Regions from separate parts of the Homo sapiens genome. Here region 2 is linked to region 1. Evidence: fine-mapped expression QTL. A gene starts in region 1. The other region holds a variant in brackets. All regions are shown on one strand. Distances are from middle to middle.

The links. PIP is the estimated chance that this variant, and not a neighbour inherited with it, causes the effect.
Region 2: its variant is the best candidate, but not a certain one, in a credible set for the expression of NFU1 in fibroblasts (GTEx, PIP 0.83).

The regions. Positions count from the first base shown.
Region 1 is chr2:69,433,553-69,442,420 of GRCh38, forward strand. NFU1 (NFU1 iron-sulfur cluster scaffold) reads right to left here and starts at 3,883. Exons shown (of 8, transcript NM_001002755.4): 1 at 3,809-3,883. The coding sequence starts at 3,870. RefSeq lists an enhancer at 3,739-3,888.
Region 2 is chr2:69,457,757-69,466,624 of GRCh38, forward strand. It overlaps AAK1 (AP2 associated kinase 1), which reads right to left. Exons shown (of 22, transcript NM_014911.5): 22 at 241-8,868. Among named protein-coding and RNA genes, the nearest start is that of NFU1, 25 kb to the left of the region's middle. The variant C/T (reference allele first, on the strand shown) is at 4,785.

The DNA.
Region 1 (8,868 bases):
GCAACCTCCACCTCCTGGGTTCAAGTGATTCTCTTGCCTCAGCCTCCCTAGTAGCTGGGATTACAGGTGTACACCATCACACCCGGCTAATTTTTATATTTTTAGTAGAGACAGGGTTTCACCACGTTGGCCAGGCTGATCTCCAACTCCTGACCTAAAGTGATCCACCTGCCTTGGCCTCCCAAAATGCTGGGATTACACAGCCAACGATCTTGATCACGCTTTTCGTGTTTTGTTTTGAGACAGGGTCTTGTTCTGTCACCCATGCTGGAGTACAATGGTGTGATCAGGGCTCACTGCAGCCTCAACATCCTAGGCTCAAGTGATTCTCCCACCTCAGCCTCCCAAGTAGGTGACACTACAGCTGTATGCCACCATGCCCAGCTAGTTTTTTTTTTTTTTTTTACTTCTGGTAGAGATGGATTACCACTATGTTGCTCAGGCTGATCTCCAGCTCCTGGCTCAAGTAATCCTCCCACTTTGGCCTCCCAAAGTGCTGGGATTATAGGCGTGAGCCACCATGCCCTGCCTTTTATATGCTTTTTGGATGGAAACATATTAACCCAGTGTTGTAACTTCACTTCACTTTTTTTTTTCTTTTTTTTTTTGTGAGACGGAGTCTTGCTCTGTCGCCCAGGATGGAGTGCAGTGGTGCGATCTTGGCTCACTGCAACCTCCGCCTCCTGGGTTCAAGCAATTCTCCGCCTCAGCCTCCCAAGTAGCTGGGATTATAGATGCCCACCACCATGCCCGGCTAATTTTTGTATTTTTAGTAGAGACAGGGTTTCACCATCTTGGCCAGGCTGGTCTTGAACTCCTGACCTCATGATCCACTAGCCTCGGCCTCCCAAAGTGCTGGGATTACAGGCGTGAGCCACAGCGCCAGGCCTCTAACTTTACTTCACTCTTACAGAGAAAACTTAATTGGCTATTTTTTATGGCTTTGACAAACTGAAAACAAAGGAAGAAAATGAAAGCAAATATTACTGGAAAAGGAAGTAAAAGGAGACTTTAATAGTAAAAATTCTTAAAATCCCAATGCAATTTACTTTAAAATCCGGTTTACTTGAAAATATCATCGCTATCCATTACCACTGCCACTTCATAGGAGCCATAGAAAAATTTTAAGTACAGGAGTCATTTATAATTGCCAATGGGTTCACTTTGCCCACTGTCCAGATACTGCTAATTCATCAAGACAGGGGATTTGCAATAAAGAGTTTAATTCACATGGAGCCAGCTGAAAGGGAGAGTGGAGTTTTAGTACTCAGTCTCTCTGGATCTGAGGCTAGGGGTTTTCAAGGATAGACTGGCAGGCCAGGGAACGGGTGTTGCTGACTGGTTGGGGATGCAATCATAGGGGTGCGGAAAATGATCCTCCTGAGTGCTCAGCCCGTTTGTGGGCGGGGCCACAGGACCAGTCAGAAATGCAAAAACCTGAAAAGGCTAATCTTAGGTTCTACAAGAGAGATGTTTTCTGCAGGAGTAATTGGGGAAGTTGCAACTCTTAGGACCGCCAGAATAATGGCTGGTAATCATTTACATCTACACCTTAGCAGAATTCAGGCTCCTCTCATCCTCCAAACCTGGTGGTCTTTCATTAGCTTTATAAAGGTGGTTTAATTTTGGGAAAGGGCTATTATCATTTAAACTATAAACTAAATGTCTCCCAAAGTTAGCTTGGCCCAAGCCCGGGAATGGGCAGTCTAGAGGTTAAAGGCAAAATGATGGTCAGTTAGAACGGTCTTTCACTGTCATAATTTTCTGTTAAAATTTTTTCCAAAGGCCAAAATTGTTTGTGATCATACACAAGATCACATTTATCTAATTATCTTCTGCTTAAAATAGGCAAGAAGCAACAGCGGCTGCCACATTTTTTTCTCTCTCTCACAAAACTGGAATTCTTCTCGTGGAAAAGAAAGAGTGGGCACCAATTAAGTATTAACAAAATACAGATGAACTGTTTACTACCTTCAATAATCTTTATATGCCATTGATAAGCAAAAGACTACTGGGATACTGTGGGACTGTAACCCATAGAGTTTCTTAGATGCTATTGGAGAGATAAAAGGATTGGCACCGAGGATTCAAGAGAACAATGGAATCAACACTGAATGGGAATCAAATAATCTGTGAAGTCCTGACTGCCACTCCCCACACTAGCTCCAGTGTTGATCACAGTAAGAGCTGTCACCACTTTATTTTGAGATGGAAATAATCTCGCTTTTCTCACTCTGTCACCCAGGCTGAAGTGCAGTGGCGTGATCTTGGCTCACTGCAACCTCCACCTCCCTGGTTCAAGCAATTCCCCTGCCTCAGCCTCCCAACTCGCTGGGATTACAGGCACACACCACCACGCCCAGCTTTTTTTTTTTTTTTTTTAGTTTCACCATGTTGGCCAGACTGGTCTCGAACTCCTGACCTCAGCCAATCCGCCCAGCTTGACCTCTCAAAGTGCTGGGATTACAGGCGTGAGCCACCACGCCCGGCACACCACTTTAAATTACATGAATCTATTACAGCACTCATGACTGTCATTATTTGTTAATATATTTTTCTTGCTAGACTGCATACTCATTAAGGGGAGAAACTATCTTCATTTCTAGCTGCTAGCACAATGGCCTCAGTTCTTCATCTCTACAATGAGATTAGTTTCACAGCTACCTCATAAATAATCCAGAGAATCCATGTAAAGTGCTTAAACCAGTGCCAGGCCATGCAGTAAGTGCTCAATAAATGGCAGCTGCTACCATTATTTAATTGGTGCCCAATAATTACTAATTGAGTGCAGTTCAAGGTTTGGGGTAAAAATGCCTTTTTCTATAGCTCAGTATCTAAATCTGTGAATACTCTGGAATTTGGAAATGCACTAGAAGAATAATATTCTCGTCCCTTCAGCCCAGGGAAAAGGCAGCAGAATGAATAAAGAGGAAGCACATTCCAACATACAGGTTTAAAGTCTTGTTTTTTTAAAGTAAGAGTGGATTACATTATTCAAGGAAGACATCTACTCAAACACAGGAGGTAACTAACAAAAAATTCTACCAACTTAAATCTTTTTAGGATATACATTTAAACTTCAAGAGCACCATTAACACTACAATGTCTAATACTCTAGAGGGCAAACTCTCCGTAGGCCATTTTCTCCAGACGTAAAATTAAGGTACACCTACATAAATGTCCTCTTAGCAATGTTCACAGAAGTCTTTGAAAGGTGAAACTCAAAGGTAGGGCTCAGGGAGGCGGAAAAAACAAGGGAACAGAGTGGGCTTAATGGTGGTGGGTGCAGGGAATCTAGGGGTCCTGGTTCTCGTCGGAATTCCATCACTTAGAAACTGTGTAACCTTGGACATGTCACCTCCTCTTTCAGGGCCTTACTGGGAAAATGAGGAAACGAGACAAGGTATTTTCTTCCCTTCTGTGTGACATTCTGATTCTGCGTTTAGAAGAGGAGGGAATGCACCCGGTAGAGGGCCTGGGGGCGGGAGAGGCACACGATTTTAAAACAGCTCCTCCGTTCTGGCTCTACAGCCAGTCTCTACAAGCTTCCGTACCGCAGAGACTCAAGAACTGGGTCTCTGAGCCTGAGAGGAAGCTCCAGAGAGTCCGCCCGGATTAGGCCACAGAAGCGCCGAGCTCCCGCACAGACAGCCTCAGGGCTCACCCCCAACTACGGCGACAGGGCGGACCCGCCGGCTCCATCAGATGCACTACCCACCCGCCTCGAGAGAGGGTCTGCAAGGCGGCGACCGCTCCGCTGGCTAAGCCCAGCGGCACACCTATTCGGAGCTCCAGGCTCGTCACCTACCGCCTGCGCAGCCCGGCGGCAACAGCCGCAGCTCCCCAGCCCCGCCTGGCCGTCGCCGCCATCTTAGTCCGGAGTGCCTAAGGGTCTCCCTGACAGAACCACGAAAGATCTGCGCAGCCGCAGGCTGGCCGGTAGCTGGGCGGGCACTGGGAAGAGCCCACCCTACCGGCTGCGGGCGGTCCTGCTGCGGATAAGTGCGGTGGCCTACGCGCCGAGGTTTGCAGGCTACTGCGTCACCCTGACCAAGAGAGGCCGGGGAACCTTTCCCGTTTGCGCCAACGCTTGGTTAATTCACGCAGCACTGTGAACGCATGCGTGTTTCCGTACTTTGTTTTCCCTGTTGGCTAGGTTTTTAGCTGGTGCTGGTGCTGCCTTGCGAATGCTGTTTCCAGCCCCTAAACCTGACCCATTCCCTCCTCTAGGACCCTACTCAGCCTCCAGGCCCAGCTCAGTGACTGCCCCCAAAGACTCCCTGGAGCATTCCTTCTAAAAGGTTCTCGCATTTCTCCTGCCCTTTTCCCATGGGTCTGATGTGGAACTGTGTCTAACCCTTCCTCATAGCTGTGCTTGTCAGCTGCCACTTGGTCATCTTGGACCAACCCGCACAGAGGATGTATCTGGTACAGTGCTGCCCTTCTCCGATTAACATGAGACTTGACTAGTTTCCAGGGCAGAGTGCCAAAGCCCATTACCTATTCTTCCAGAACCTTCCTGGAGTATTCCGTTTTCTCTAGGACAACGGTTCTCAAAGTGCGGACTAGGGGCCAAAAAAAAGCAGGAGAACACGTTAGAAATGCACGTTAGAACATGTTAGAAATCCTGGGCCCCACTTTATACTTACTGAGGCACAATCTCTGTAGGTGGGGACTAGAAATCTTTGTTACTTGCTTTTTTTTTTTTTCTTTTTCCAGAGACAGGGTCTATCTCTGTTGCCCAGGCTGGAGAGCAGGAGTGCGATCATAGCTCACCAAAACCAACTCCTGGGCTCAAGTGATTCATCCTCCAGCCTCAGCCTCCCAAAGCACTGGGATTACAGGTGTGAGCCACGGTGCCTGGCTTTTATTAGCAGTAGTAGTAGTAGTATTTTTGTAGAGAAGAGGTCTCCCTGTGTTGCCTGGGCTGCTCTTGAACTCTGCTGGCCTCAAGTGATCCCTCTCACCTGGGCCTCCAAAAGCTCTTAGGTTACCTCACCCTGCCTAGTAGTGTTTTAACAAACCCTTCCCAGGATTCTGATGCCAGCTAAAATTTGAGAATCACTGTTCTGGAAGACAGAGGACTGGTTTCCAGAATGGAAACAGCACACCTGTTGTTGAACAGGTTGAGGCCACACCCAAGACAACCCTAGTAATTTCTATGGCCCACAGACACATCTAAGAGGGTGGGTGGGTTTCAGGCCTGCAGCTCGCCCGGGCCCGCACACTGAGTGGGCTGTGCCTCCTACGAGTTTGGTTCATTCCCAATGCTGCGTACTTGCTTTTAACTACTAGTGATCTTCCCCCATCCAACCCCCCACCCAGTGATCTTCCCCCATCCAACCCCCCACCCACCCCCCCACACACACCCATTCTAGACCGCAAGGCAGTCCAAGGCTCTGTTTTTGACCCTCAATCAAAAATAAAATGTGGCTCTTCCACCTTGGAACAATCGTTCTTCTCAGACTTCAATTTTTCCCTCTCTGATGGATTCCTTATCATAAGAAAAATCCTGCCTTGCCCCAAATCCTCTTCCACACTCTTTTCTTCCCTTCAGAACCAAGTGGCTTAAAAAAATGGTCTGCACTCTTAGTCTCTAGTTTTTCACTTCCCACTCCTCAAACCCCTGAAACGAGGCTTCTATGTCCCACCATTCTTAGGGCCTGCTCTAGTCAAACCACCCACAGCCTCTGTGCTACTGTGTCCGGAATTGGTGGGTTCTTGGTCTCGCTAACTTCAAGAATGAAGCCATGGACCCTTGTGGTGAGTGTTACAGTTCTTAAAGATGGTGTGTCCAGAGTCTGTTCCTTCAGATGGTCAGATGTGTCCGGAGTTTGTTTCTTCTGGTGGGTTCGTGGTCTCACTGACTTCAGGAGTGAAGCTGCAGACCTTTGCGATGGGTGTTACAGTTCATAAAGACAGCACGGGCCCAAAGAGTGAGCCACATCAAGATTTACTACAAAGAGCAAAAGAACAAAGCTTTCATAACATGGAAGGGGACCCAAGCAGGTTGCCACTGCTGCCTCAGGCACCCTGCTTTTATTCCCTTATCTGACCCCACCCACATCCTGCTGATTGGCCCATTTTACAGAGAGCTGATTGGTCCATTTTACAGAGTACTGATTGGTTTGTTTTACAGAGAGCTGATTGGTCCGTTTTGACAGGGTGCTGATTGGTGCGTTTACAATCCCTGAGCTAGACATAGAGTGCTGATTGGTGTATTTACAATCCTCTAGCTAGAGTAAAAGTTCTCCAAGTCCCCACTAGGTTAGCTAGACACAGAGCACTGATTGGTGCATTTACAAACCTTGAGCTAGACACAGGGTGCTGATTGGTGTATTTACAATCCTTTAGCCAGACATAAAAGTTCTCCAAGTTCCCACCAGATTAGCTAGATACAGAGTGCTGATTGGTGCATCCATAAACCCCAAGCTAGACACAGAGTGCTGATTGATACATATACAATCCTCTGGCTAGACATAAAAGTTCTCCAAGTCCCCACCTGACTCAGGAGCCCAGCTGGCTTCGCCTAGTGGATCCCATGCCAGGGCCATGAGCAGAGCTGCCTGCCAGTCCTGCACCACAAGCCTGCACTAGAAAAAGTATCAGGCCCAGAGAGGCATTTAAAATGTAGCAGCAGTAATATCTCATTCGCCCTTGAGCTAAGTAACAACTTCTTGAAGTCACTTGCTATGTATACACTAGACTAATGTCAAGAAGCCGTTAACATGCCATATACCCTATAGTTCAACAGTGCATGGCCAGTCACTAACAATGTTATTTCTGTAAACCAATGAGAATACCTGCTGAGCATGGTGGCTCACACCTGTAATCCCAACACTCTGGGAGGCCAAGGTGGGCAAATTGCTTGAGCCCAGGAGTTTGAGACCATGCTGGGAAACATGGAGGGTTTACAAGCATGAGCCACTAACCCTGGCAGAATAAAAACATGTTATCTGAGGAAGGTGAGCCCCTTTAAATTATGAGGCCCATTGACTAGCCTAAAAAAGAAAAGTATCAGGGCCGGGTGCTGTGGCTCACGCCTCTAATCCCAGCACTTGGGAGTCTCTACAAACAAACCATGTCTCCACAAAAAATTAGCCAGATGTCATGGCATATGCCTGTAGTGCCAGCTATTTGGGAGGCTGAGATGAGAGAATCACCTGAGCCTGGGAAGTTGAGGCTGCAATGAGCCGTGATTGCACCACTGCACTCCAGCCTGGGTGACAGCATGAGACCCTGTCTCAAGAAAAAAAAAAAGTCAAATGAGAATACCTGATGAGCAACTTTTGTAATTGTTCCTCTCCCCTGATTTGTCTCTTTTTCTTTAAAAAGTTGAGCCTCTCCTTTTTTCCCAGAGCACTCTCCAAGGCAACCTGCAATATGGCCAGGGCTACAGTCCTCAACCTTGGCCCAAATAAATTCTCTATATTAATTTTGCCTCAGCTTCTTTCTTTTAGGTCAATATTTGCCTACAGTACTGTTTAATTAGGTTTCCTGTTACTCACAGATGATCAAAATCCTGTGTGGAGTAATATTAAGATGAACAAAACAATTCCTGGTCTCAGGGAGCTCCTGGAGAAGATTTGTAAATCAACAAAGGCACTAAGGGAATAGAACGCTATGTGGGGGAGAGGAAGCATTGTCAAATGTGAAATGGTGTTTAACTTTCTTTGGGTTATATTTATATGAATGAGTTATTAATGTGTGTTTCAAAATTGTGTGAGATTCCTGTAATTCTGGTATGTCTTAGTATATGACATCAGTAATAATTATGATTATTATGTTACATCGTTGTGTGCCACAGAAATAACCAAATTTCCTTGTCAATTGTGTCTTTAACCATGGCTGTTCTTTTTTTTTTTTTTTTAATACTTTAAGTTTTAGGGTACATGTGCACAATGTGCAGGTTAGTTACATATGTATACATGTGCCATGCTGGTGTGCTGCACCCACTAACTCGTCATCTAGCATTAGGTTAACCATGGCTGTTCTAAGAGTTTTGTCATCCACAGACAATTGTTGTTTTATTTTGATTCTTCTCAAAAAGTAGTTTATAATCAGCTGCAGTCCAAAATTTTCTTCTTTAAGGAAATTCATGGAAAGGACTCTAACAAATACTCTTGAATACAAGTTTCCGATAACTTTGGAGATCATAGCATTGGACTATGAAAATGCTTTCCAGGACTCTAATTAAAAAGCTGATGTATTCATGAGGATTGCTAACCCAACATCAAAAAGAACAAGAGTTAATTAATGGGACTAAACCAATAGAATATTAAAGTAATTTTTGTATGTGTGTGAAGTAATTTTTAATGACTGTTTTTTGTTTGAAACATTGCTGATAATTTTTGTTTTGTTTTTACAGAGTCAAGAAAACTTTTTTCTGTTGAGCTATTTATAGCTTACAACAAGTTGGGTAAAATATACCTTTCTGATCAAAATTTGAAGCATATTCTTTCTCTCTAAATTTCCCCAGAATTTGGAAACTATTTGTGAGATTCTTTTTTTTTTTTTTTTTTTTTTTTTTTTTTTGAGACAAGGTCTCACTCTGTTGCCCAGGCAGGATTGCAGTGGTGCAATCTCAGCTCACTGCAGCCTCAACTTCCCAGGCTAAACTGATCCTTCCACCTCAGCCTCCCAAGCAAGTAACTGTGACTACAGGTGCCCAACACCACACTCAGCTAATTTTGTTTATTTTTTGCAGAGACAGGGTCTCACTATGTTGCCCAGGCTGCTCTCAAACTCCTGAGCTCAAGCAGTCCTCCTGCCTCAGTCTCCCAAAGTGTTGGGATTACAGGTGTGAGCCACCACACCCGGCCTATTTGTGAGTATTCTTAATATATAGCAGTATAGTTATTTGCATAA
Region 2 (8,868 bases), 24 kb after region 1:
CACTCTGTGTTATTTTCTGAAATTTGGAGAGGAAATAGGCAGGCAGATTCTCCTTCACAGTATGAATTTTAAAAATAATTCTTAGGTATATTTTTTCCTAAGACTTCTCTCTTTATGTTAATGCTGGTCTCTCTTCAGGAATATAAAAGTATACTACTAGGCTTCACACTAAGTGAAAGATACCTATGGATCCCTTCAATCCTAGAGAGATCTGATTTAAGAAATTGCACAAAGCATAAATCACTTAATTAGGTCCATTTTAATAAAGGGTATAGGAGTTTACAACTCAAAACAATTCATAAAACCTATCAGATACATACGATAAATCACACCGAGAGTGCAATAACATAAATCCAATGGTCTGCAAATAAGAGGTATTGCAAAAATTGTTAAGATTGACTTTCATGTTTCCCCCCCTCCTTTCTCTTGTTCACAGCCCGAGATTATGTGTACATTGTTTTCTGAGGCCTGATGACCTCAATACTCCTTCTGGCTGGAGAGACCTCCTCATTCAGTCCATTCCAAATAGTCAGCAGAGGGAGTTCACCTCTTCTCCACGGAATGAGCGTGGTCCTTGTCCTTTATTATTTGGTTTCTATCTCCTAACAAATGACATTAAATGTTCCCTCATTCAAAACATCTTGTGGGCCTTGTGGTGTTCTGGTCACTGCTACCCTCTCAATGCCACACATGAGCCCTCAGGGTGAGCCCTACAGAGTTTCATCCTTGTGGATAAGAAGATGTGTACTTGGGAACAAGGCTAAAGCCATGGCTGATTTCCCCAACCTTTTATCGCGAAGAACTCCAGTTGTAACTTTTGAGAGTTTTTTTGGCAAAAGGAACTACATTTACTCATGCCAAATACCTATGGTCACTTCTCAGTACTCTTTGGATACCTTTATTAGGAGAGCTTGAATTAACACCATGGAAGAAAGCATGAAGATGAATGAGCACACACACACACACACACACCCCATTCACACTCAAATAGGAATCTCTGGTAGACTCAAAGAGTACAGCTGATTTGCCATTTCAGAGTGAAAAGGCTGCACTGTCTCACCCTGCCCCCAAAGTCTAACCTATCCTATTTTAACTGGTATTGGTAAAAACTATTTTTGCAATTCCTTGCCGAAAGGAATCAAACGGATCCCTTTAACATGTACATATAGTTCCATTATAATGCAATGCAGGTAACACTAACTTGATTTCAAGAACATTGTCAAAACTGGGGTACACATCCTTCTATTAGAAATGGCTGGGGGACAGCTGAGAATAAATTTATGGAATTACAAATTATGGGAATACTGGACTAAGTCAAGAATGGTTACCATGTAGCCATTTTTACCAGCTATTCTAGAGTCCCTTCACACATAAACTTGACCCTGCATTCCGGGAAAAGTACCTCTGGGTTGTCACTACAGAGTAAGGCTGGGGTCCTGCCAACCTTCCTTCATCCTTTCTTCTAGTTCATAATAGGGAAGGTGAGCCATTTCATTCATTCATGTTTTGTTTGTTTTGTTTTTTTGAGACAGGGTCTGGCTCTATTGCCTGGGCTGGAGTGCAGTGACACGATCTTGGCTTAGTGCAACCTCTGCCTCCCGTGCTCAAGCCATCCTCCCACCTAAGCCTCCCAAGTAGCTGGGACTACAGGTGTGCACCACCATGCCTGGCTAATTTTTGTATTTTTTGTAGAGACAAGGTTTTGCCATGTTGCCCAGGTTGGTCTTGAACTCATGAGCTCAAGCGATCGGCCCAACACAGCCTCCCAGAGTGCTGGGATTCCAAGTGTGAGCCACCACACCCCGCCCATTTCATTCTTATTTGGTGAGATTGTCACAGACTTGGCTGAAACTTAACAAGAAACTGTTTACAGCAACAAAGGAAGCAATTAAAGTTAACATGATCATTCAACTGTGCCATTCATCATGCACTTATTGACATGCTCAAAATAGGGGAATGTTAAGTAAGGAAATGAAGTGGGAACAGGAACAAGGGAGCTAAGCCAAGAGGACTTCCAGGGACTTGAACAAAAACAATTCCCAACCACATACTACTTTTCAAGCATTTTGAAACTCTTCTTTTCCTTTAGTGATGTTTTCAGTAACAAACTTGCAAGTGTTCTTGGTGGTTAAAAAACAAAACAAAACTACAAGTATCAGCTGAGAAAGACAAAGAAAAAACTAAGAATTTAAATTAGATAATTCCATTTAAAGTTTCCAATTCCTCGTTTAGGTGGAGTTGGAACATTAGAACTCAGGGGTGGTTTGGATATTAACAAGGTACTCCTGCCTCCTCAGAAGCTACAGTCTTTTCTGCAGCTCTCTTATGTACCTCTCATCAAAATAATTTCAGTCCCACATTTCTCGGATAAAACCACATCTGTGGTTTTATCCAGCAACCATTTCACAGTCGACTGGCACGTGTTCTCCAATTTCAGTTCCAAACACACAACACAGAATCACACTTTTCTTTATTAAAGGGACCCAAGTGATTTTTAAGCTGTATTCTTCCTGCTAGAGAATGAATTGAGTAGCATCCTTCTCTAATTTCCTACAATAAAATTTCCTATGTGATATACTGCATATATATTATATCTGATATATGTTTTGATTATTTTTCTTTATGGAAGCAAATACAGAATTTCCTTGTCAGATCACTCTGATGATTATAATCTGCTACTTTGATTATGCATCAGTGAAATGTCCACCAAGCAGTTGAAAACACTGATGTACATGTATTCTAAAACTTACTAAATAATGGGCCAGTAAGATACCAGTATCTTTCTAGAACGTTTAGAAAGAGATCTTAGTTGCCAGAGAAAACTCAGATACAACATGAGCCTCTAAACACATACACTCTAGTCTACAAATATGAGACTTTTCAACTCAACAATAAGTGGGCCGAAAACAATATAGGGCGTATGACCTAGACTCCCTGGGTGCTGCTCAGCAGCTGCTTCAGCATCAAATTGTGTTCATCCCATTTTCTAATCTAACCAAGCACTTGGAACTAAAGGGCTGTATGTGAGCCCAAGAAACTGATATATTAAATATTTTTCACCACATATGACATCTTTCATTCAGTACTGCCTGTTAGTCAATTACTGTGGATTCTTTCAGGGTTCATCAATGCATGTGTGGCTCGATGGTTTAGGAATAAATATATTCTGGCTCAATGCTTTCCACTGAAATGAAAGGTCACAACTTCTATGTTCCCTATCAAATGTGTAAAGCAAAAACACAACAAACGAAAACAAGAAAGTAGAGTTGTTTGTTGATTATATACAGTCATGTGCTGCATAAAAACGATTCCATCAATGATGGACCACATATACCATGATGGTCCCATAAGATTATACCATATTTTTACTGTACCTTTTCTATGTCTAAAATGTTTGGATACAGAAATACTTACCATTGTGTTACAACTGCCTACAGTATTCAGTACAGTAACATGCTGTACAGGTTTGTAGCCCAGGAGCAACAGGCTGGACCATATAGCCTAGGTAGGTAGTAGGCCGTGCCATCTAGGTTTGTGTTAAGTACACTCTGTGATGTTCACACAATGACAAAATCACCTAAGGATGCATTTCTCTGAATGTCTCCCTCATCATTAAGTGGGGCATGACTGTATTTTTTTTTCTCTTTAAGGAAATAAGACCCTACTGTAATACAAGTCGGCAGAATCTAACTGTTACTAATAATTAATGTAATCCACAAGTCAAAGTTTTTTCATGCATCACCAAAAAAAAAAAAAAAAGTAATTTGCATGTGTTTGCATCCGTTTCTGTATTCAAAGAAGGTATGTAGAGTCTCCACCCATCATGTCTCCAGTGACAATTTTTTTTTTTTTTTTGAGGCGGAGTTTTGCTCTTCTCGCCCAGGCTGGAGTGCAATGACACAATCTTGGCTCACTGCAAAGTCTGCCTCCCTGGGTCAAGCAATTCTGCCTCAGCCTCCCTAGTAACTGGGACTACAGGTGCGTGCCATCACGCCCAGCTACTTTTTGTATTTTTGGTAGAGACAGGGTTTCACCATGTTGGCCAGGCTGGTCTCAAACTCCTACCCTCAAGTGATCCACCCACCTCGGCCTCCCAAAGTGCTGGGATTACAAGCGTGAGCCACCGCGCCTGGCCTCCAGTGAAAAATTTAAAAAGGATACAAGCTCATACTTGACGAAGTATTCAACTATGTAGTAAAATCACCATGATTTTATCCTGATTTGCACCTTGAGAATTAAAATAGTCACTTGATTAGAAGGGAATTATCAAATAACCAAAGGAAAAACATTTTGCTGGGCTGTTACAGAGATAATCCTGAATATTTGGAAAGGGGAATTAGAATGATCTCTTACTTTAAGAATTTCTGAACCAAACACCGCATGTTCTCACTCATAGGTGGGAATTGAACAAAGAGAACACATGGACACAGTAAGGGGAACATCACACTCTGGGGACTGTTGTGGGGTGGGGGGAGGGGGGCGGGATAGCATTAGGAGATATACCTAATGCTAAATGACGAGTTAGTGGGTGCAGCACACGAGCATGGCACATGTATACATATGTAACTAACCTGCACATTGTGCACATGTACCCTAAAACTTAAAGTATAATAATAATTTAAAAAAAAAAAAAGAATTTCTGGGCCAGGTGCGGTGGCTCACGCCTGTAATCCTAGCACTTTGGGAAGCCAAGGTGGGTGGATCACAAGGTCAAGAGTTCAAGACCAACCTGGCCAACATGGTGAAACCCCATCTCTACTAAGAATACAAAAATTAGCCAGGCG[C/T]GGTGGTGTGTGCCTATAATCCCAGCTACTCGGGAGGCTGAGGCAGAATCGCTTGAACTCGGAAAATGGAGGTTGCAGTGAGCCGAGATCACACCACTGCACTCCCGCCTGAGCGACAGAGCAAGACGCCGTCTTGAAAAAAAAAAAAAAAATTTCTGAGTTGGGGTGAGAAATCTCCCTGAGTATTTCTAGGCTCTTCGCTCATGTTTTTGAGGGCTTCACTTGATAATGACCATGGGAAGAATCTGGGGTGCAAAGTTCCACGTGCATTAGCCGAAATTATTCATTCAACTAGAAAGACAATTTTGCATCCACTAATACATAAAAATCAGAAAGGAGAATTGGGAAAAAGCATATTCTTAGAATAACATTTAGCATCCACCAAAGTGAAGGACATAGGTTTCTGGCACAGTTGAAACCTTAGTTGGAAAACCAAACCTTGGCACAGTGCCAATTATTTATCTTTTGATCAGGACATTTGAAATAGGCAGAGACCACCAAAAAAGGACAAAGTATTGAAAAGTAGCTGCTCATTTTTTACTGCCAATATTCCTGAACTTTAAAGAATATCACACCTAATCAACCGCAATAGAATTGGGCATTCAGACTTGATTCTTAGATGAATTTCCAATAATTTTTAAATCATTGATCTGGCTTGGTAAATAGCTCTCCAAACTTCTACAGCTAATGGAAAAATCACTTAACCTTTACTAGAAGTAACAGAAAGCATTAAAGTTGAAACCTAATGCAGCAGTTCTTTCCAGTGAGTTGAACTGCCTTAGCAGAAATCTTCCCATTGAGATACAGGCTTTATTTTTATTATTATATTTTTGGAGACAGTGTCTCACTCTGTCACCCAGGCTGGACTCACAACTCACTGCAGCCTCAAACTCCTGGGCTCAAGTGATCCTTCCAGCTCAGCCTCCTGAGTAGCTACAGGCATATGTCACCATACCCAGCTAATTTTTTTCATTATTTTATTTAATTTTATTTTTTAGACTCGCTCTGTCGCCCAGGCCAGAGTGCAGTGGCGCAATCTCTGCTCACTGCAACCTCTGCCTCCCGGGTTCAAGCGATTCTCCTGCCTCAGCCTCCTGAGTAGCTGGGACTACAGGTGTGCACCACCACGTCCAGCTAATTTTTTGTATTTTTAGTAGAGATGGGGTTTCACCATGTTGGCCAGGCTGGTCTCAAACTCCTGACCTTGTGATCTGCCCACCTTGGCCTCCCAAAGTGCTGGGATTACAGGTGTGAGCCACCATGCCCAGCCTATTTTTTTATTTATTTTTTGAAGGGACAGGGTCTCGCTGTGTTGCCAGAGTTGGTCTTGAACTTCCTGGGCTCAACTGATCCTCCTGCCTCAGCCTTCCAAAATGCTGGTATTACAGGTGTGTGGCACTGCACCTGGCCAGCTTTATTTTAAGGCACTAATAATAAAGGGTATGAAAAAAGCTAGGAATAAGTCAGATCTTTCCAGAAATAAAAGACAATTTTAAAAAACATCAGTTAACCTGTCTGGCCTATTTCAACATCTAAAGAGGATAGAGAATGTAAAAGTTTTCATGCCTACCTGATTCAGCTCTTTTCCATTCTCCCAAACACTTATTTCCATGTCTCAGATTTACATTTCCTCAAAAGGCAGTAGAGATTTGGAAACAACAACAACAACAACAACAACAACAACAAAACCACCCCAAAACAAGCAAGCCTAGTTTGTAGCCTAGTCTCATGATTAATGAATTCCCTAATGCTGGCATTTAGCCCACATACTGAGAGGCCGGAACTGTAACAAGGTGCTCTTTTCTAGTGTTGTAAGGGGAAAATGTATAAGGAAAATTAATTTTTCATAATCAGGTAAATATAATTTGTTAATAGCAAAACAAGAAATTCCGGAGAGAAAAAAGATTTACTCTGAAACACCAGTTCCAGCAGGATTTCCCTACACCTTCCAACGTATTCTACTTTGCCATGAGAAAAAAACTAAATAAATAAAATGGGGTTCAAGTCAGTTAGGCGAGCAAACACCAAAAAACGAGTGATTTCATTGTGGAGGTAGGCATGATGGGGCAGGATTTCCCTCAAGTGGAAATGCTTCCTGTGCACACACACGTATACATGCACACACAAACCTGTACACTCACACTAATTTCAAAAGCATGGATGTGGGGAAAGCCCTGCCAGCATGACTAGACATGAGGAGTTAGCCCATCTGCCTGTATCTCTACACAGGCTCTGACGTACATTCCACACCCATAGACAGTCATGCACGAGAGCCAGCCTGGCTTGCACACAGACTGAGAATCAGATCTGGAGACTCCTAGAGCTGCTGCTTCTACAGGAATTATTAGTAACTGCAGGATTATACTTCCTGTTGATGTGCAGGGTTTTTATCTTGCTCTTCTTTCCAGACATCTCCCCTTTTCAAGAGTACTAAATCTTGATTTAGTGGAGGGACTAATCTTGATTCTTCGATGGGCATGACTTAGAACAGGAGCTACAGGAATTAAAACTAGCAACAATAGGGCCCCTTTGGGATTGGGGTGAAGAAGTATTTCAGGATTTAAACAGTTTCTGTGGGTGGGGCGGGGGGAAAGCAGAGTTCTTGGTGGAAGTGGATGACCTCTGTGAAGGAGATGAAAATGCCTCCAAGTCCAGAAATCAATATAAACAAACAAACAAACAAACAAAAATGAACATAACTTAAAGGGGCTTCAACTAAATATCACTGCAACTGAGTTTGTTGACTCAAGAAATTCTGCTCTGACGCAGGGAATTGAAATATAAGAACTGATAATATTTCTTCTTCAGAAGGCTAAGCTGGGAGTGCCATGGCGGGTATTGAGGGTGGGATAGAGACAAGAGGCTTGAGGCTCAGGTTTTGCTCCTAGGGTTTCTTGCCTGATTTTGAAGGGAAGGGTGCTAGAGCAAATGGATCAGCAGCTGGCAGCTCCGTAGTCCTGGAGGAAAGGGATGTGATAGAAACAGACCCAGCTATCGACTGCTTGTTGGTTTGTGAAACAATTTTGTAGGCAGCAATGGGCTGGGCTTCTGGACTTGGCTCGTCTTCTGGGCTATAGTGACGGGAATACTTGGATAAGGACTGGGGGCGGAATGGTTTGCCAGCCATGGGGCCTGAGACAGCTTCTTTCTGGAGCTGAGGTCCTTTGTTTCTGTCATTAGAATGACCCCCAGATTCCAGGCAGGATCCCCTGGGAGAGATGCTGTCCAGATGGTCTGCTGCTTGTACAGAATGGGACAGGAGGTTAGACTGTTGCACAAAACCAGCTGTGGAATACTGAGCTTGGACAGAGGTGTACACAGCTCTCTCACGGCCCGCGGGCAGGGGGACATCACCTGTCTGACTGAGGAGACCGGTCTGTGCAGGCAGCTCCTGGGAGGTGCATTGGATAACTGTTAACTCCTCCATGCTTTTCTTCTTAGTGAAAGGAGCTCTCAAAAACACGTCTGACTCCTCTGGCTGGGAAGGAGCCATACTGCTCTTGGAGACAAATGGGGCTTTGGAGAAAATGTCCATGTCATCATTTGGAACCCTTGAGCTCCTGAAGGGAGCTATGGCAAAAACATCTGGCTCACTGAGCCCATCAGTGGCTGGCTGTGTGAAGGCTTGAAACTGGTTCTTTCTTCCACCTTGCACTGTCTTTGCTTGCTCAGGAGAGACTTCTGGTGGAGCGAATGGAACGGCTCCTCCCAGCTTCCCCGGGGGGGGTCTGCAGCTCTCATCTTCTTCTTCAGACTCCATAAGGAGAGGCCGAGACCCACTGCAGTCCAGCATGTCTCCTTCAAGGTCAGTCCCTTCCTCTTCGCTGCTGTGGAATGAGCTGTTGCTTGAAGGGCCATCTCTGGCCAAGTAGTCAGATTCTAAGTTGTTCTGAGTCTTTGTGCCAGGTACTCTGGAGGGGTCTGGATACAGCGGAAGGCCTTTAACACCCAGTGATTCTTTAAAGTGCTCTACAGTTATTACAGGACAGGGATTGGACTCCCTCTGGAGATCTAGAAAAGCATAAAATGCAGAATTAATGTGTAGGTCAATTCAACTCTATTTGGAACATTTAATGGTCAACCC